Linked DNA regions of Homo sapiens. The protein of the gene in region 1 interacts with the protein of each later gene in a biochemical or structural test. Each region holds a gene or a part of one and is shown on either strand. Other genes may lie near its edges.

Evidence for each region. The genes of interacting proteins can lie anywhere in the genome.
Region 2: of the proteins of RAD18 (region 1) and RFC2, one has a biochemical effect on the other in vitro, tested with the Homo sapiens proteins (one study listed by BioGRID).
Region 3: the proteins of RAD18 (region 1) and HLTF form a complex in vitro, tested with the Homo sapiens proteins (2 studies listed by BioGRID).

The regions. Positions count from the first base shown.
Region 1 is NC_000003.12:8,939,466-8,946,491, reverse strand, and holds part of RAD18 (E3 ubiquitin-protein ligase RAD18), read left to right. Parts: intron 1-4,687; coding exon 4,688-5,025; intron 5,026-6,838; coding exon 6,839-6,938; intron 6,939-7,026. UniProt on the Homo sapiens protein: E3 ubiquitin-protein ligase involved in postreplication repair of UV-damaged DNA. Postreplication repair functions in gap-filling of a daughter strand on replication of damaged DNA.
Region 2 is NC_000007.14:74,237,383-74,244,408, reverse strand, and holds part of RFC2 (replication factor C subunit 2), read left to right. Parts: intron 1-1,162; coding exon 1,163-1,263; intron 1,264-4,313; coding exon 4,314-4,471; intron 4,472-5,420; coding exon 5,421-5,486; intron 5,487-6,966; coding exon 6,967-7,026.
Region 3 is NC_000003.12:149,069,517-149,076,542, reverse strand, and holds part of HLTF (helicase-like transcription factor), read left to right. Parts: intron 1-495; coding exon 496-662; intron 663-2,194; coding exon 2,195-2,328; intron 2,329-3,220; coding exon 3,221-3,318; intron 3,319-4,885; coding exon 4,886-4,960; intron 4,961-5,099; coding exon 5,100-5,291; intron 5,292-7,026. UniProt on the Homo sapiens protein: Has both helicase and E3 ubiquitin ligase activities. Possesses intrinsic ATP-dependent nucleosome-remodeling activity; This activity may be required for transcriptional activation or repression of specific target promoters.

The DNA.
Region 1 (7,026 bases):
GAAGGACGTACTGGTTTAGATAGTGGTCAGGTGCCCCTGTAGTTAAGTGTAATCATGTGTTGCTTAACAGGGATGTGTTCTGAGAAATGTGTCATTAGGCAATTTGGTTGCTGTGTGAACATCATACGGTGTACTTACACAAACCAACATGGTATAGCCTACTACACTCCTATTCTATATGGCAGGGCCTATTGCTCCTTGGTAACAAAACCTGTACAGCATGTTACTATAGCTAATACGGTAGGCAGTTGCAACACAATGGTACCTATTAGTGTATCTAAACATAGAAAAAGTACAGGGAAAATATGGTATAAAAGATAAAAAATGGTACATCTTTATAGGGCATTTACTATGAATGGAGCTTTCAGGACTGAAAGTTACTCTTGATGAGTCAATGAGTGAGTGATAAGTGAATGTGAAGGCCTAAGGCCCTTACCATACACTACTGTAGACTTTATAAACACTGTACACTTAGACTACACACTAAATTTATAAAAAAGTTTCTTCAATAATTAACCTTACTGTAACTTTTACACTTTGTAAACTTTTATATTTTTTTAACTTTTTGACTCTTTTGTAATAACACTTAGCTTAAAACACAAACACATCGTATAGCTGTATAAGCATCTTTCTTTATATCCTTATTCTGTGAGGTTTTTTCTGTTTTTAAAAATTGTTATTATTTTTTCCTTTTTAAACTTTTTCTTAAAAATGAAGATGGAGGCCGGGCTTGGTGGCTGACGCCTGTAATCCCAGCACTTTCGGAGGCCGAGGTGGGTGGATCACGAGGTCAGGAGATCGAGACCATCCTGGCCAACATGGTGAAACCCTGTCTCTACTAAAAATACAAAAATTAGCTGGGCATGGTGGCACACACCTGTAATCCCAGCTACTTGGGAGGCTGAGGCAGGAGAATCGCTTGAACCAGGGAGTTGGAGGTTGCAGTGAGCCGAGATCACGCCACTGCACTCCAGCCTGGCGACAGAGTAAGACTCCGTCTCAAAAAAAAAAAAAAAAAAAAAAGAAGATGGAAACACACACATTAGCCTAGGCCCACACAGGGTTAGGATTATCAAGATGTCACTTAGCAATGGGAATTTTTCAGCTCCATTATCGTCTAATGAAACCACCACTGTGTATTTGGTCTCTTGTTGAACAAAGCATGTTGGAACATTCTATGAGGTACCTTATGTTGCTTTTAAAAATATAAACAGATTTCTTTCAATAGAATTACACATTTCTTTATTGGTTTGCATTCTAAAAACGATCAAATTTAGTACAGTTGTCTCTCAGTAAAGGGGATTGGTCCCAGGACCCCTGAGAATACCAAAATCTGTGGATGCTGAAGTCCCTGACATAAAATGGCATAGTATTTGCATATGCACATCCTCCCTTATACTTTAAATCACCTCTAGGTTACTTATAGTCCTAATACAATGCTATATAAATCGTTGTCATACTGTGTTTTTAAAATTTATATTATTTTTCATTGTTGTATTGTTACTTTTATTATTTTTTGAACATTTTTGCTCTGTGATTAGTTGAATCCACAGATGCAGAGCTGGTGGATGGGAAGGGCCGACTACAGTTTATTGTTTAGCCAAATGGTTCTAGACTGCTGTTTACATGTTTCTGATCAGAACAAGCATTGCAGGACTTTAGTTACAGAAGTCCATGGAATTGATTGCATAGATTTAATGGCTGCCCATGTCTACCCAAAGGCCTATTTTGACTCTTGATTCTTAGCCCCATTCTGAAGAGGTAAGGTTATTGTATAGTTAACAGATGGACAAGACTTTTCCTTCCTTCCTTCCTTCCTCCCTCCCTCCCTCCCTCTCTGCTTTCCTTTCTTCCTCCCTCCTTTCCTTTCTCCCTCCCTCCTCCTTTCTCCTTCCCCTCTCTATTCCTCCCTCCCCCGTCTATTCCTCCCTCCCTTTCCTTCCCTTCCTCCCTTTCCTCTCTTCTTCTTGCTCTGTTGCCCAGACTGCAGTGCAGTGGCATGATCATGGTTCACTGTAACCTCGAACTCTTGGGCTCAAGGGATCCTCCTGCCTCTGCCTCCCAATTAGCTAGGACTATGGGTATGTGCCACCATGTCCACACTGAAGAAATAAACAAAGCTTCCTTAAATATGTGGTAGAATTTACCAGTGAAGCCATCTGGGCTTGGAGTTTTCTTTGTGGAAAAGTTTTAAATTATAGCTTCTGTTTCTTTAACAGATAATAAGGGCTCTTCAGGTTTTCTGTTTCTTTGTCAGTTTTGATGAATAGTGCTTTTCAAAGAATTTGTCCATTTTATCTAAAATTTAAAATTTGTTGTTTTAAAGTGTTCATAATATCCTCTAATTATCTTCTTTATAGGATTTGTAACGAGGTCTTCTTTTAATTCTTTGTTTTGGTAATTTGTATTTTCTCTCATTTATTTCTTGTTCAGTCTTAGTAGGGATTAACAGTTTTGTTAATTTTTTCAAAGAACCAATGTTTGGCTTTGCTTGTTTTCTCTTGTTATCTCTTCTATTTCACTAGTATCTGTTATTAGTTTCTCTCTTCTTTGGGTTTAGTTTGCTGTTCATTTCCTAACCTTTTAAGTTGGAAGCTTAGAGTGGTGGTTTTTACTTTTTCTATTTTCAATAATTTTCCCTCCAGGGACAGTTTTGGCAACCCTTCATGCTATCGTTCAGTTTAGAATATTTTTCTAGTTTTCATTGTGATTTGACATGCGGGGTTATTTAGAAGTGTGGTGCTTTATTTCTTAACATTTGGAGATTTTCTAGTTATTTTTCTGTTGTTGCGTTTCATGTAAATTCGGTAGTGGTGGAATCTATGGGTTGATTTTTTTTTTCTATCAGATTTGAAAATTCTCAGCCATTGGTTTTTCTAGTATTGCTGATTTCCCATTCTTTCTTTCTGTTCCTTCTGGGCTTTTAATTATGCCCAATATCTCATACTTTTTTGTGTTTGTCTTTTTCATTCATTTTTCTCTCTGTGCTTGGTTTGGATATTTTCTATTGACCTGCCTTCAAGTTTGTATTGTGTGTTGTTATACTCATCCAATTTAGATATGGTATTTTGCAGTTGTAGAATGTTCATTTTATTCTTTTTTATGGATTTTATTTCTCATAATACACTATCTTTTTATCCCTTTTCTTTTTTTTTCTTTAACATGTTTATCATAGTTTGAAGTCCTTACCTAGAGATGCTATTCTTTGGATTACCTCTGGGTCTGCTTCTATTGAATATTTTATCTCTTGATTAGTGGCTACTTTTTCTTGCTTCTTTGCATGTTCAATAATTTTAAAATATGTGCTGAACATTGTGGTTGAAACGTTGTAGAAGCTGTGAATTGTCTTCTTTTGAAAGATGTCACATTTTGTTCTAAGAGGCAGTTAAATTATCAGCTCTTCATCTTTGTTCTGTCAAGGCCTGGTATAATGTTTTCTTAGGTTAGGTCTGTTTGAGCTTTGTTTATATTTCTTCAGTGTGGTCCATTTTTCTAAGGTGTGGTCTTTGTGGGGTGTCACTTGAATGTCCATGATCTTACCAAGATTTCTCAGCTTTGGCTGGGCTCCAATGCGAACAACTAACTTTCCAGCACTGACGTTTGGGATTTTAATTTACCAGTATCAGCTTCCTAGTGGGTCTCCTGTGTTTTTGTCTAATCATGTGCAGCCCTGGAAATGAGCAGGAATGGATGTGAATTTCTAAGCAGACTGGTGGGGTTCCCTTTCAGTAGCTACCACGTGTCAAAGCACTCTGACCCCTCAATCCTGGCCAGTTTTGTTCAGAACTCTGATCTCTTATTTTCTCTAACAAGTAAGATCAATGTTTCCTGTTTAGACTTCACTTTAGTACCCATTCCTAGAAAATGCTCCCAGGGTAAAGTAAGTCTTGGGGGAAATGTTGGACTACTTCATGTTTTCTTCTTTTTCAGGGATTGCAGCCTTGTGTTGATTTCAGTCCAGTGCCTACAAAGAGTTGTTTTTTATGCAAGTTAGGCCATTCTTACATTGCTATAAAGTAAACTTGAGGCTGGGTAATTTACAAAGAAAAGAGGTTTAATTGGCTCATGGTTCTGCAGCTGTACAAGCCATCTGCTCGGCTTCTAGTGAGGTCTTGGGCTGCTTACAGTCACAGTGGAAAACAAAAGACGGGCAGCATGTCATGTGGTGAGAGTGGGAGCAAGAGAGACAGAGTGGGAGGTGCCACACCCTTTTAAAACAGATCTCATGAGAACTCACTCACTGTTACAAGGACAGCACTAAGGGAATGGTGCTAAACCATTCATGAGAAATTCGCCCTCATGATCCAGTCACCTTCCACCAGGTCCCACCTCCAACACTGGGAATCACATTTCAGTGTGAGATTTGGTGGAGACGACATCCAGACTATATCAGTATATTTTGTTCGGATTTTAAAGTTACTTATGGTTGGAGATTAGGTCTCATATAAGCTGTTCTCTGTGGCCTAAAGCTGATTTCCTTTCATTTTGTTTTATTGACACATTAACTGCCTTTTACGTTAGATTTATTGCTTTGAGTTATACTAGAAGAAACTTTGGTTTGGTTGTCATTATAGTATAGGTCCTGTATTTCAGAAAACAAGGTTAATTGGGAAAACAGCTTATGTCAGTTAATTTATGATGTAAAATTGGATCTCTTAATTGTCTGTTGTGTTCTTTGTGCTTCAAGGAATCATCTGCTGCAGTTTGCTTTAGAGTCACCAGCCAAATCTCCTGCTTCTTCCTCTTCAAAGAATCTTGCTGTCAAAGTATATACTCCTGTAGCCTCCAGACAGTCTTTAAAGCAGGGGAGCAGGTTAATGGATAATTTCTTGATCAGAGAAATGAGTGGTTCTACATCAGAGTTGTTGATAAAAGAAAATAAAAGCAAATTCAGCCCTCAAAAAGAGGCGAGCCCTGCTGCAAAGACCAAAGAGACACGTTCTGTAGAAGAGATCGCTCCAGATCCCTCAGAGGCTAAGCGTCCTGAGCCACCCTCGACATCCACTTTGAAACAAGTTACTAAAGGTAGGAAGTTATTTTCATATGTGGAAATATGGACATCTTTTCATCCACATGACATAAGAATAAATAGGCAGCATCTTTGAGGGGGAAGGAATGGTAAAGGACAAACCAGATTTTACCATATCACAAACCTCAGACATTGTTGTAGATATGTTTGTTCTCTTTCTCTCTCAGAAACAGGAATTCAGGCTGACTGCTACAAAAAGGAAACAATTTTAATTAGTTCAGCCTTCAAGTATGGCAGTAGCTTTCTGTTTTCAGCTTTTAATCTTTCTTCCCCTCATTCAACATATCAGTTCCCATTTAATCTTGAAAAGCTCTTTTTATCTTATTTTACCACCACTTGAATGCCTCCTCACTGTTCTGCCTGCCATATAAAGCCTGTGACAATTTGAGGCCTAACCTAGTCATCCCGCCTTATTGCTCACCTCTCTGTCTCAGAAGTCCTGCTCTAGCCTCCCCACTGTTCCTCCAGTACACTGAGGAATTGGCAAACTACAACTGGCAGATCTAATCTGGCTTGCCACCTGTTTTTGTAAATAAAAGTTCACATACCCACCCTATTCTCTGTGACTGCTTTCATTCTACAGTGGCAGAGTTGCATGGTTGTGACAGAGGCCATAGGATCCGTAAAGTCTAAATTCTACCTGGCCCTTCACTAAGAATGTTTGCCGGCCCCTGTTCTATACCTTTCCAGACTCTATCCAGATCCTCACTATTCATTTGTTATGTTAGAAAACACTGTCTCACATCACAAAAGTGCTATAGCACTTGTTTTCTGGACTGTTTTGTATCCCATTTGCTTAACTGTTTGATGAATATGTCAGCTTGTTTAACTTTTTGTTTCTGTATCTTCTTTCCAGTGAAGTTTAGAGCACCTTTTAGGCAGAAACTCTTAGACATCTTTGGTATACCCATACCACACGTAGTGCAGAGATGTGAGTGTGTATTAAACTTAGATTGAAATTAGTTTATTAGTACTTAACGTGTTTACATCTTTTAAAGATATATAAATTTCACTTATATTTTCTACTATGTCTATCCTTAGTCTTTTTACCAATTGACAGTTCTTATTGTAGTATTTTTTAGCTTGATGGTTAACTGTTTTTCCCCTAGCGGAACCTTTTTTCCCAAATGAAATTTTACGATAAACCATAACGTATAAAATAGATAAAACAGATTGTTCTGTTCCACCTGACCTCCTTCTGCCTATTATCCATGGTGGTCTGTAGGCCCCGAGATACCCCCACAGATCCCTGCAACTTTATGAAATAGTTTGAGAATGACTGTGTTCCTTAATTTTAACATTATATATGGAATCATCAGTGAGAGCTAAATTAACAAATTTGTAACCATTGACAAAATTGAACTCAATAAATTATTAAACTACCTTTCCTTCACTCGGCCCTTGGGCCAGGTGTGTCTTACTTAAGTCGTTACTATTGCTTCTGGGCTAAACATGGATAGCTCCTAAGGGTTGGGAAAATTTAAGATGAGTTCTATAGTTTGGTCATACCTTGGTAGAAAAGATGTAACCGAAACATTTTTAATAAATGAACTTTCAAGCTTATTTGCAGTCTCTTTCTCTGGGACCAGGACTTCAATTTTGTGACTTCCCACAATTTAGCCATTACCCAGTAACCAGTCTGTCCCACTCCTGTTGTCCCGATGGGCCATTCTTTTTCTTTTCTGCTTTTCTAAGTGCATGTTAAGTTGGGATTCTTTTTTACTTTACTTGCTGAAAAGATGCCAGTTTACATACTTTTGCCCCTTCTACAATTAATAAAGTCTCTCTTTTTCTTTTTAAAAAATACAGTGGATTGTCCTGTTTGCGGGGTTAACATTCCAGAAAGTCACATTAATAAGCATTTAGACAGCTGTTTATCACGCGAAGAGAAGAAGGAAAGCCTCAGAAGGTAAGGAAGTTGAGCAGAACCATTGAGCTACTTTAGCTGGGTGCCTCTTGTGCTTACTTGGGGGAAAATTACAGTATTCCTTTTATCC
Region 2 (7,026 bases), on another chromosome or scaffold:
TGCACACCAGCCTGGGCAACAGAGCAAGACTCTGTTTCAAAAAAAAAATTTTTTTTTTTTAATGTGGCAGTAATTCATGTTCTTTGAAGAAAATTTAGAATATATTAATAGTTTGCTGCCTTTTTATTTATTTATTTTTTTGAGGTGGAGCCTCACTCTGTTGCCCAGGCTGGAGTGCAGTGGCATGATCTTGGCTCACTGCAACCTCTGCCTCCTGGATTCAAGTGATTCTCCTGCCTCAGCCTCACGAGTAGCTGGGACTACAGACGTGCGCCACCACGCCCAGACAATTTTTTTTTTTTTTTTTTTTTTGTATTTTTAGTAGAGTTGACGTTTTGCTGTGTTGGCCAGGCTGGTCTTGAACTCCTGACCTCAAGAGAGCCACCTGCCTCGGCCTCCCAATGTGCTGGGATTACAGGCATGAGCCACTATGCCTGGCCATTAATAACTTGCTTTTTTTCTTCTCTTTTTATATACTATCAATGTTTACACAGTTGAGATCATAATATATATAATTTTTGTATCCTGGTTTTTCCTTTTAATGTTGTAGGCATTGCTCTACATTATGATAATCTGGTAAACAGGCTTTTTTGTATTTTTTAAAATTTTTTGTAGAAATAGAGGTCTTACTTTGTTGCCCAGGCTGGTCTCGAACTCCTGGTCTCAAGCGGTCCTCCCGCATCAGCCTTTTGAGATGGGAGGATTGCTTGAGCCCAGGAGTTCGAGGCTGCAGTGAGCTATGATTCCACCATTGCACTGCAGCCTGGGTGACAGCAAGAACCTGTCTCTTTAAGAAAAAAAAAAGAATAAAAAAGGAAGAAAGAAAAGTTGGCAGCTGGTGTCATGATTGTTCTCCTGAATTTGTGTCATGAAGGACTGGAGAGAACCAATTCCCACAAGTGTGATGGCAGCCCTTGTAGATCGTGGTTTTCGTGAGTTTCACTTGAGGGTTGTTCTGATGCTGTAGGTACTAAATGCTGTTTGCACAGTCTTTGAGAGAGCGGCCTGCAGGTGTTAGCATTAGAGGGATGGCCTGCGTACTTCCAATGAGACCCTCATTTAGGACATTGGATGTGTCTTATGTCCTGGGTTTTTGTATAGGGAACGATTTGTGTCACATGGTCTCTGGGTCCCACTTGCAAACTTGTGTTTTTCTTCTCAGCATGACCGACGGAGCCCAGCAAGCCTTGAGGAGAACCATGGAAATCTACTCTAAAACCACTCGCTTCGCCCTTGCTTGTAATGCTTCGGATAAGATCATCGGTGAGTGGGAGCTTTCGGTGGCTGGGGGCCACGTGGTGCTCAACTGGGCTTTTTTCTTTTTTATAGATGTGGTCTCCCTCTTCGCTCAGGCTGGAGTGCAGTGGTGCCATCACAGCTCACTGCAGCCTCAAACTCCTGTGCTCAAGTGGTCTTCCTGCCTCAGCCTCCCAGTAGCTGAGACTACAGGCCTGTGCCACCACACCTGGATTTTTTTTTTTTTTTTGAGACAAAGTCTCACTCTGTCGCCTAGGCTGGAGTGCAATGGCACGATCTCAGATCACTGCAACCTCCACCTCCAAGGTTCAAGCAATTCTTGTGCTTCAGCCTCCTGCGTAGCTGGGATTACAGGCTCGCACAACCACACCCAGCTAATTTTTTTTTTTTTTTTTTTTTTTTAAGAGATGGGGTTTCACCATGTTGGCCAGGCTGGTCTCAAACGTCTGACCTCGTGATCGCCTGCCTCGGCCTCCCAAAGTGCTGGAATTACAGATGTGAGCCACTGCACCTGGCCTCGCCTTGGCTCTTTAGCGCTGGAAGAGTAGGGATTTTTTTATTGTGTAGCATGGGCCAAGCACTATATAATCAAGTTTTTAAATTTATATTTTTTTAATTGACAAGGAGAAATTGTATATATTATGCACATGTTTCCCATTGTAATCAACTTTTAAATTTAATCTTACATAATCCTATGAGGAGGTATTATTCGCTTCAGTTTAGAGATGAGAAAACTGGAGCTTATCCTGATGTTTAGGATCTAAGGAAAAAAGAGAAAGAAAACGAGCTTGGAGAGGTTGAGTAGTTTCCCCAAAGTCAGAGCAAGTGCAAGAGCAGCTGGGATTGGAGCCCCAGTTCTATCACCCTCTTGCACTCTTGGAGGCACAAGGATGTTGTTGATGTCCCCTGCACGGTGTCACGATCACAGTCGCTCTCCAGATACCTTCTTGTGCTATTCATGTGCTCTGAGTACTTGGTATAGGCAGTATCTGTACATTGGAATTTGTTGCCTCCGGGAAGCTCCTCTCTCAAATCCTGCAGTCCGTCTTTTCTCTAACCTTACTGTTTGCCCTTCCACCTCCCTCCCTGCAGCCTGTCTGCTTCTGCATGGGTTTGTCCCGCCCCAGGTCCCAAGAGTGCTCTAGTCTGTCAACTTCCTGCTGGTTTCACATCCTTCTCTTTCTTTTTTTTGTAGAGAGAGTCTCGCTCTGTCGCCCAGGCTGGAGTGCAGTGTTGCGATTTCAGCTCACTGCTATCTCCGCTGCCTGGATTCAAGTGATTTTCCTACCTCAGCCTCCTCAGTAGCTGGGATTACAGGCATGTGCCACCATGCCAGGCTAATTTTTGTATTTTTCTTAGAGACGAGGTTTCACCATGTTGCCCAGGCTGGTCTAGAACGCCTGGCCTCAAGTGGTCTGCCCACCTCGGCCTCGCAAAGTGCTGGGATTATAGGCGTGAGCCACCACGGCTGGCCCATCCTTCTCTTTCTGACACAGGCTGCCTGCACAGCCCAGCTGTCCTCTTTCCTCATTTTTCATTGCTCTCTCAGCCGCTTTCTTTGCCTCACTTCTGCCCTGCTGAACCCCAACCATATGAGCTCATCCATCTGACAACCCCCTTGCCACCCAGGCCGCTGTTGCCGACGAGCGCATTACCAAATATGGCACCCACAAAGTCATGGCTACCAGCCCTGGTGGGGCTCTCAGCAGTGTCAAGAATCCTTTGCATTCTTTTCCCTTCCCAAAATCGCACTGATTTGTGCATTGATTCATTAACCCATTCACCGAACGCTTAACTCTGGTTCTTAGTAGCCGCCAGGCACCATGCTAGTGGAGAGCTCGTGGAGTTTAATGAGAAGTATTCTCCACTTTGCAGATGCCAGCAATGAAATGGAGAAAAATGCATTCCTAGGTCTTGATTTGGCAGGGCACAGTGGCTCATGCCTGTAATCCCAGCACTTTGGGAGGCCGAGGCAGGTGGATCCCCTAAGGTCTGGAGTTCGAGACCAACCTGGCCAACATGGTGAAACCCCATTTCTACTAAAAATACAAAAATTAGCCGGGTGTGATAGCGTGCGCCTGTAATCCCAGCTACTCAGGAGGCTGAGACAGGAGAATCACTTGAACCTGGGAGGTGGAGGTTGCAGTGAGCCTAGATCACACCACTGCACTCCAGCCTGGGCAACAGAGAGACTTGGTCTCAGTAAAAAAAAGAAAGAAAGAAACTGGCCAGGCATGGTGGCTCACACCTGTAATCCCTGCACTTTGGGAGGCTGAGGCAGGAAGACTACTTGAGGCCAGGAGTTCGAGAGCAGCCTGGGCAACAGCAAAACCCTGTCTATGAAAAAAAAAGAAAGAAACTGGGTTGGCCCATTCAGATTGAATTGTCATGTGCCCAGAAGGGCCAACATCCAGCACACACCAATTCCAGAGTCCACCTGGGCCAGGGCTGACTCATCTAACAGCTTGTGGCAGGCACATGGATGTGTTTCTACTGGAGGATCATTTCCCCGTCTGGAAGCCGTGGCTAGCCAAGGCCATGTGGGCAGTGCCAACTGAGGCCTCTGTCATTGCTTATTGGTTGACACCTTGACATATCACCCTGTGTTTACCAAGTCTCTCTCTCTCTCTTTTTTTTTTTTTTTTTTTTGGAGACACAGCCTCGCTCTGTTGTCCAGGCTGGAGTGCAGTAGTGTGATCTTGGCTCACTTCAGCCTCCAACTCTCGTGCTCAAGCGAGTCTCTTGCCTTAGCCTCCTGAGTAGCTAGGATTACAGACGTGCGACACCACACCCAGCTAATTTTTGTATTTTTAGTAGAGATGGGGTTTCACCATGTTGTCCAGGCTGGTCTCAAACTCCTGTCCTCAAGTGATCCTCCCGCCTCAGCCTCCCAAAGTGCTGGGATTCAGGCGTGAGCCCTCGTGTCCGGCCTACCAAGTCTCTATTGAGTGCCTGGGGCTGTGTGGATTGTGCAGCTGCAGCCTTATGACCAAAGAGCTAGCAGGATGATGCCGGCCTCTGCAGGGAAGCCTCACTACTGTCCCGTCTCTGTTCAGAGCCCATTCAGTCCCGCTGTGCAGTCCTCCGGTACACAAAGCTGACCGACGCCCAGATCCTCACCAGGCTGATGAATGTTATCGAGAAGGAGAGGGTACCCTACACTGATGACGGCCTAGAAGCCATCATCTTCACGGCCCAGGGAGACATGAGGCAGGTATGTGGGCTGCTACCATTCAGGCGTGGGCATCCTGTGCCTGCCATGCCCCTTCCATGGGGAAGGGGAGGGAAGTGACAGCTGCACAAGGTACAACAAGAGAAAGAGACAGAGACCTGGCACCCTCCTGGGACAGTGGGCTGTCTAGCTCGGACTCCAAGAAGAGAGGCAGGGAAGGGCAGAGCTTTAAAAGTCACCCCGGAGGCTGAGGCAGGAGGATCACCTGAGGTCAGGAGTTCAAGACCAGCCTGGCCAACATGGTGAAATCCCATCTCTACTAAAAAAAATTAAAAAATTAGCCAGGCATGGCCAGGCACAGTGGCTCACGCCTATAATCCCAACACTTTGGAAGGCCAAGGCGGGTGGATCACGAGGTCAGGAGTTCATGACCAGCCTGGTTAACATGGTGAAACCTCATCTCTACTAAAAATACAAAAAATTAGCCAGGCGTGGTGGTGGGCGCCTGTAGTCTCAGCTACTCGTGAGGCTGAGGCAAGAGAATGGCATTAACCTGGGAGGCGGACCTTGCAGTGAGCTGAGATAGCACCACTGCACTCCAGCCTGGGCGACAGAGCGAGACTCTGTCTCAAAAAAAAAAGCTGGGCATGGTGGTGGGTGCCTGTAATCCCAGCTACTCAGGAGGCCGAGGCAGAAGAATCGCTTGAACCTGGGATACGGAGATTGCAGTGACTCGAGATTGTGCCACTACACTCCATGCTGGGTGACAGAGTGAGACTCTGTCTCAAAAAAAAAAAAAAAAAAAAAAAGTCACCCTTGGCCCGGTGCGGTGGCTCATGCCTGTAATCCCAGCACTTGGGAGGCGGAGGTGGGAGAATCGCTTAAGCCCAGGAGTTCGAGACCAGCCTGGGCAACATAGCGAGACTCCTGTCTCTACTCAAAAAGAAATAAATATAAAAATCATCCTTGACATGTGTTTGCTCCTGAACAGGCGCTGAACAACCTGCAGTCCACCTTCTCAGGATTTGGCTTCATTAACAGTGAGAACGTGTTCAAGGTACAAGCGCTAGTGTGGGTGGTACTGTCAGCAGAAGCCGTGCTTCCCTGTGGGGGCCAGTGGGGCTGAAGGGCTGGGCTGGCAGTGGGGACGGACATCTAGCTGCTCTTGTGGGTGCCAGGGAGCCCACCCTGCTCCCGTCTGTCCTCTCCCTATTGCTGCTTTGCTGCACAAGCTGGAGAGTTTCGGGGGACCTGGAACGTCACTTGTGTGTGGTAGGTGAGGGAGGACCACGGATGCATCAGACCCAGGGTCGAGCAATTTCTGACGTGTCTTATTTGATCCCAGCGACTTCCCTGCACAGAGGTTCTCACCATCACATTGTGGGTGATGACGTGGGCCCAGGGGATCCCCTGGCCCCTAAAGGGCAGGCAGGAGCACTGTGCTGTTCCCCAGTAGCCTTCAGACCCCACACCCTGGGTTTTTTCTGCAATGCTGTGCCCTGCTCCCCACTTCTGCCCCTGGAGGGTGGGTAGTAACCCTCAAAGCCAGGCTGAGGAAAAGGTTTCTCACTTACTCTCCCATGTCAGCAAAACATTTTTCTCTTGGGAATTCTTTTGAAAACTGCTTCCGCATCCTGATAACTCCGCGTCTAAATGCCATTTGAGAGATTCACTTCCCCCTTATTTGGGGGAAGAAACTGGGAAGGGCTGTCCAAGCTTTCAGCCTATAGCTGTTTCTTACCAGGTTTGTGGACAACAGACAAGCGATTTTTGAAGCATCTGGGTAGATCTGGGCAGTGAATGCATTTTCGAGGCCACTTAGGAAGGGGAGGCCCGCTCAGAAACAGGGGTGATGGTTCGGGCCCTGTTTTGTCTTGGAGGGTCACTGAGGGCTCAGGAAACCATGGCTTCCACCGGGAAAAGGCAAGGGCAGGTGTGGGTGACCTCTGGAGCCATCAGGAGGCTTTCATTGGGAAGATGTAGGGGTCGACATTGTACCAGAGGCAGAGCCTCATGCCACTGCGGAGAATGCTGCAGGGAGGACGGAGTCCCCAGCACCATGCACCTGCCTGCTGGAGTAGCCTGACCCCTTGTTTAGGGTGTCAGGCTGAGGCTGGGGGACCTTTTGTAGGGAAGGCCAGTTCCTACTCCGGGGTGGAGGTGGGAATTGGCCCAAAAGACCTCCCAGTTCTAAAGTGAATTCCAAGTGGTTCTGGGCAACTGACCCCCCAAGTGATCTAAGACAGATGACTTGTGACTTTAAAGCTGTCCCCAAGTGAGCATCCTTCACAGGCCCTTGGTTGCTCTCTTGTTCATCTGTCTTATGTTTGGGAAATTTATCTTCCTGGTGCCGGAAGCACTTCTCTTTGATGGTGAGAGGAGCATTCCCCAAACTCATCCTGGTTGCTGGAGAATTTGATGAAAACAACAGGTTGAGAAGTTTTACCCATAGATTGCCTGGAAGTCGGTCTGTTGGGGCCTCCCCGCTCACATTGTCCCTTCTAGCCCCTGACCGCCTTTCCTTTCCCTTTGGCCAGGTCTGTGACGAGCCCCACCCACTGCTGGTAAAGGAGATGATCCAGCACTGTGTGAATGCC
Region 3 (7,026 bases), about 140 Mb from region 1:
AGATCCTAGCTCTGCTACCTTTTAGCTTTGTGACCTTGGGCAAGTTACTTTTCTGTGCTTCAGTTTCTTCATTTGTAAAATGGGAATAATGATAGTACCTCCCAATAGAGCTGTGAGGATTTAAAAAGTCAGTCTGTGCAATGTACTTAGACCAATGCTTGGCACATAGTAAGCGCTCAATAAGGGTTGGCTATTTTTCAGAAGTTATGATGTTGAAAATTTTAGATAATTTGAATTTGCTAGTTTACATTTGACTATTTTTTAAGACATTAAGGATTTGTTAACTTCCTAATGAATATAGATTAGAAAAATAATATTAAGGAGTCATAATAATATATATTAATATTTCTGTAGTTTGTGTCTAGAAAATATATTTTTCTTATGTGCAGTGTTTAGCAGTAGCATTAAAAAATGAATGGAAATCCCAGATAAAGTATAACAAAGTTATTGTCTATTATTTATAATGTAATATTATCTGTTTATCATTTTTATTAGGTTAATAATAATGAAATGGTTGCATTACAACGAGATCCTAATAACCCTTATGATAAGAATGCAATTAAAGTAAACAATGTGAATGGAAATCAAGTTGGCCATTTAAAGAAAGAGCTTGCAGGTGCTTTGGCCTATATCATGGACAACAAATTGGCACAAATTGAAGGGTAATGTACTTTCAGAATTTAGTTTTAATAATTGTGAATTATAGTCATCTTTGAACTTGTTAGGGCTTCTTGTTAGAGCCTATAAAGGTATGCTAACAATTTCTATCACTGTACTTTTGGTACGTGTTAAATAAATGTTTTATTTCTCCTTTTACATACTTCTACTACCCCAGCCATCAAACAATTGTCCTCTCATTTTCCTATGGAATTATTACCATGGAGAAAATAGACCTTGGTTCAAATATTAGGAAGTACATTCCATTTCTCCAAACCTTTTGGTACCTAGGTTTAGGAATTTGGAAGTGTTTATTTGTTTATTTATTTATTTATTTATTTTGAGACGAAGTCTCACTCTGTTGCCCAGGCTGCAGTGCAGTTGTGTGATCTCGGCTGACTGCAACCTCCGCCTCCAGGGTTCAAGCAACTCTCCCTGCCTTAGCCTCCTGAGTAGCTACAGGTGCCTGCCACCATGCCCAATTAATTTTTGTATTTTTTAGTAGAGACAGAGATTTGCCATGTTGGCCAGGCTGTCTCGAACTCCTGACCTCAGGTGATCTGCCCGCCTCGGCCTCCCAAAATGCTGGGATTACAGGCGTGAGCCACCGTGCCCAGCCTGGAAGTGTTTGTTTATATCAGAGGTTATAAACTGGTATTCTGTGATATGATGTAGGTGAATTTCATTTTGCCCTGCAGTGTTTTAGACATTTTTTCGTTCAGTACTAATTATTGAAATAGCTAAGTCCGCATTTTATACATATTAATTTATTTTCTTAAATACAAAAAACTTATTTTTCTCTTGACAAGTGGGAAATCTGGCAATGCAGGATGAGTTGTCACTTCCATATGACAATAGTTGACTGGAACTCTCCCTTTAGCTAGGGCATATGCTCTCCCAGTTTTATCACCTGTTTCTTTTTTCTTTTTCTAAACTCTTTCAATCTTTCAGTTACCTTTTCTCTTTTAGGCATTTGTACTTGTGATCTCAATTTAAGTATCTGGAATATTTAGGATCTTGATATTCTAATTCTAATTTTTAGGATATTCATATAATCCTAGGTGAGTTTGAAGAGAAAATAAATGCTCATAATGTCTCACTTTGTTTTCTCCTTTTTCAGTTTATCAGGTTTTTCAGTTATTGAGAATAACTTAGTGAATCACAAGTTCTTGCATTTCCCATTTTCCAAGCAGAATGAGTTACTACCCTCAGTGGTTCCGTTAGCCAAACTCTACCCTTTGATTTAACTTATTTTACTTATATTACAATCTTGTTTACAGGCCATCCTTGCATTTTTAAAACTGCTTTATTCCATTTTCTCAATTTTTTCTGGCACTCTGTTTCTAAAAATCACCCTTCTGATTGTTTATGGTTCTATTTCTTTTCCTTTTTTTCTTTCAAGTCTGCCCAACTAGTTCCTTATTACTTTACTTCAATGTAAAATGTAAATGATACACTTAAAATATTGAACTAATTCTTAGTGGGGATAAAAAGTAATGCTTCTGATTTCCCTTTCTTTTTCTCCCAAATATAATAGGGTAGTTCCTTTTGGTGCAAACAATGCTTTTACCATGCCTCTGCATATGACTTTTTGGGGAAAAGAAGAAAATAGAAAAGCGGTTTCAGATCAGTTGAAGAAACATGGATTTAAATTGGGTCCTGCACCAAAAAGTAAGTTTAGGGTTTCACTTAATATTATTCTGATATTGTAAGATGCAGGGATTATGAAACATTTATTCTCTCTTGGAGTTTGTTGGCTAATTTGTGCTCAAGGCTCCAAGGTACAACTTTTTTTCAGGAGTCTTTTTGAGGAAATCTCTGATTTTTCCTTTTGCCTCTATTGAAATAGATTCACACATAAAAATATACACAGTAAGAGTGAGGGGATATTAAAAAAATTAAAGAAAAAGTATATATGCAATGAAGTCTCATATATACCCTCCCCTAATTTTCCCTAATGGTAACATCTGGAAACCCCTGACTTTAAACATTCTTTTTGATAAATTTTAGGCAAAAATAATCTTCTGATAGCGAATGAAAAGGATTGCTTGGCAAGAGTTTGTTCAAATAATGTGGAATTACTTGTTTTTTTAGTGATTTAGTATTTAGCTTTTAAAATACCTCTAAAATACAAGGCTTTTAATGCAGTTTGTTATGCACGTTTTATTTATTTATTTGTGTATATATTTTGAGACAGAGTCTTGCTCTGTCACCCAGGCTAGAGTACAGTGGCCACGATCAGTGGCTGAGTGCAACCTTGACCTCCTGGGCTCCAGCAGTCCTTCCACCTGAGCCTCCTGAGTAGCTGGGACTACAGGCGCACACCATCACGCTCTGCTAATTTTTGTATTTTTTGTAGAGACAGAATCTCACCATGTTGCCCAGGCTAGTCTCAAACTACTGGACTCAGGCAAACCACCTGCCTTGGCCTCCCAAAGTGCTTGGGTTACAGGCATGAGCCACAGCACCCAGCCCTGTTAATGCATATTTTAAAAGCTACTTAATAAAAGATAAAAACCTACTTTATTTGATGGCTTTATTCTTTTTATTTTGTAAATTATAGCTTTAGGATTCAATTTGGAAAGTGGTTGGGGCTCTGGAAGAGCTGGACCAAGCTATAGTATGCCAGTGCATGCTGCAGTACAGATGACAACTGAACAGGTGTGCTTCTCTTTTATTTTGTAATCTAAAAGTGAATTTTAAATGTTGCAGGTTTGTATTTAAAAGAACAGGATGAATATGTACGTGTGGGTATTTGTGGTCTTCAAATATATTAAGTTATAATGAAACATGTTATAGAATAAATAGAATATATATATGTTAACATTTTATATAAAAAGTACTGATAAGGAATAAATCCATACGTGAACATTTGTACCCAACATACAAAACACACACGTTCCTGTTTATGCACGGCATATTTTTGTATCTGAAATGTTTTAAATGTTCAAGTAGTAATTTTAAGAAAAAAATTGAAGCTGAGACTTAACTCCTTTCAGTAATTTTGCAAATGCAGTGCTAAAGATTTAACTCCAAATTCTTCACATTGTCTAATTTGTAATTTAGGATGAGTTATGCTGAATTTCTTTGAAAAAAAAGTATATAAAGTAATTAATGCAGATCAATTTAAAAATAACATTAAAACTTTTTTGATGTTTGTATCTACCAGTGTTAGTCCTTTTATCTACTAATTGTAGTTACCATATTTACCCTGCTTATTGTTAGAAGGACTTGAGCTTGTTTCTGGTAGATAAGCCCCCGGTTACTTCTGATTTTTTAGACCTGGCCTGATTTCTTCTGAGCTGCTGCTGTGTTCATGTGTTAATTTTCAAAAATATCTGTATCACATATATGTTGATATAAAATTGGACTAACCTAGTTTAAATAGTCAATTAAGTTAGCATAATAATAAAAGTATCCTATAGTGCATGGCAAGTTCCTTATTGCAGTAATAATAAATGGAATGTCATTGACCTGGTAGGACTGAGAAAATATTTTGAATACAACTGATAGCATCACAGAATTTTAATGGCAGAAGGAACCTTAGAGACAATCTAAATTTAGTTCATCCCTTTCATTTTATAGGAATAAGACATGGGGCCATAAAGGTCAAGTCTTGCTGAAACTTACATATAAGCTTATTTGTGATAAAACTGTGACTGAAACTCGGGACTTAAAATTCTTTTATATTCTTTTACCTCCTAACAACTAAAGCACCTGTTCATTCGCTCTTCAGTGAGTAGTGTAATTCTAGAGTTGATTTATGTGCCTTTTTGGCGTTTGACTAGTTTGTGGTTTTTAAATTTAATTTAATTTCAATTTCTTAATTTTTTGGGACAGGGTCTCACTTTCTTGCCCAGGCTGGAGTGCAGTGGCATAATCATGGTTCACTCTATCCTCTACCTACTAGGCTGAAGTGATCCTCCCATCTCAGCATCCCTAGGAGCCAGAACTACAGGCATGCACCCCCATGCCTGGCTAATTTTTTAAAAATTTTTTTGTAGAGATGGGATCTCTCACTATGTTATCCAGGCTGGTCTCAAACTCCTGAGCTCAAGTGATCCTCCCACCTTGGTCTCCCAAAGTGCTGAGATTATTGGCATGAGCCACCACTCCTGGCCCGTTTGACATTAACGCCAGTTAATTAAATGATTTCAAATCTGACTTAAATGCAAGTATTATTTTAATTAGTTTGTTTTACATTGTTTCTTGTTGCTGTTTATTGTAGCTTAAAACAGAATTTGACAAATTGTTTGAAGATTTAAAAGAAGATGATAAAACCCATGAAATGGAACCAGCTGAGGTATTGAACCAATATTTTTTATTTAAGACTACTCAGAATGTTTAAATATACTTAGAATCTACTTTTTGTTTAATCACAGGATCTGCATGTGAAAAAGGAATGGCTTAATGTATTTCGCTTTATGACTTTTTATTTATAGGCTATTGAAACACCACTGCTTCCACATCAAAAACAAGCTCTAGCTTGGATGGTGTCACGGGAAAATAGCAAAGAACTTCCACCATTCTGGGAACAGCGAAATGACTTATACTATAACACAATAACAAATTTTTCTGAGAAGGACCGACCAGAAAATGTCCATGGAGGAATTTTAGCTGATGATATGGGTTTGGTAATTATTTTTTTCTTTAGTTAATAAAATCTAATTTTGTGATTATGATTTTCTAGAAAGTAATTTTGAAGTAAAAAGAGATAGGAATATGTTGGTACCAGTTTGGGACTAGATCTTACTATCTTTGTAGAACACAGTTTTTCCTGTAGTTTTTAGTTAAAATAGTGGTATAAAGATGTGTTCCTCAGTTTTCTTTTTTTTTTTTTTGAGATGGAGTCTTGCTCTGTCACCCAGGCTGGAGTGCAGTGACGCGATCTTGGCTCACTGCAGCCTCCGCCTCCCAGGTTCAAGCAGTTCTCCTGTCTCAGACTTCCAAATAGCTGGGATTACAGGCATGTGCCACCATGCCCAGCTAATTTTTGTATTTTTAGTAGAGACAGGGTTTTACCACGTTGGCCAGGCTGGTTTTGAACTCCTGACTTCAAGTGATCCGCCCGCCTTGGCCTCCCAAAGTGCTGGGGTTACAGATGTGAGCCACCCTGCCTGGCCATGTTTCTCAATTTTCTTTGCTCTTTGAAATTCAGGGTGACCTGTCTTTCATAGGTTTTCTTTTAAAAAGTAAAGACAAAACAATGTTATGTGAAATTGTATTCCATCACAAATATTGTGTTATGCAGAGTATTAAATAGATACTTATGTGTCCTTACACTAGCAGTTTTTATATTTTTCAGTCTCAGTAACCCTTTCTACTCATAAAAATTACTGATTTCAAAGAGCTTTTGCTTTTGTGTGCTGTTATCAGTAGTTATAGTATTAGGCAGTGGTAGCTAAAGATAGCAGTACAAACTCATTGCTTGTTAACATAAATAGCATATTTTTAAAAGAAAAATAACTATGCCAAAACATTAACATTTTTGTTGCAACAACTGGCATTGTCACATTTTTGCACATCTCTGTGTTTGGCCGAATAGATGGCAGCTGAATTCTCACCTGCTTCTTCATTCAGTCTGTTCTGTTAGGTTGTTTTGGTTGAAGTATATGAAGAAAATTTGTCCTTACGACGGTATGTTGCTGTAAAGAGAGGAGTATTGTAATAGCTTTTTAGATAATTGCAGATTTCTTTGATATACTGCATCAAAATTCAATAAATATTAGTTTATTAAAGGTTAATTGTTGTAATATGGAACGCTAAATCATATCAGTGAGCTTTTTATACCCTGTTTTGTTAAAATCTATTTGTGTATCTTGCTCATTGAATGAATATTTTACCCATGTATGATTTTATAACACCAGGCATTGCTCATTTAGAAAATGTTGGTTCATTGAGTTGGGCAGACCTACTAAATGTTGATGTATTTCATATGCAATATCCAAAACTTACATTCATTAATATTACCACTGATGTTATTAGAAAATCATTTACATTTTGGGAAGGCACTATGTTCATAGTGTCACACACAACTTTTCCAACATTCTAATTTTCTATTGAAAACTCACATTTTATCATTGACAAGCTCAGTTGTTTCCTTTGTAGATGACAGCCTCACTTTGTTCATTTTCTAGAAAGTATCTTTCAGACACTCAGTCGTGATTGATAGTTGTCATTCAAGTAAAAATGGTGTCGCATGAAAAAAGTGACTAGTTGAGCTTATAACTCCCATCTTGAGTGATTTTTCTCTAGCTAACCCTCATAGTTTGATATGCAACAGAAGTAGTTAATATGTAGTTTCCATTTCACTACACAGAATATTAAAAAGATTTGTACTGAAGTAATGAGACTTAATAAAATTAATGT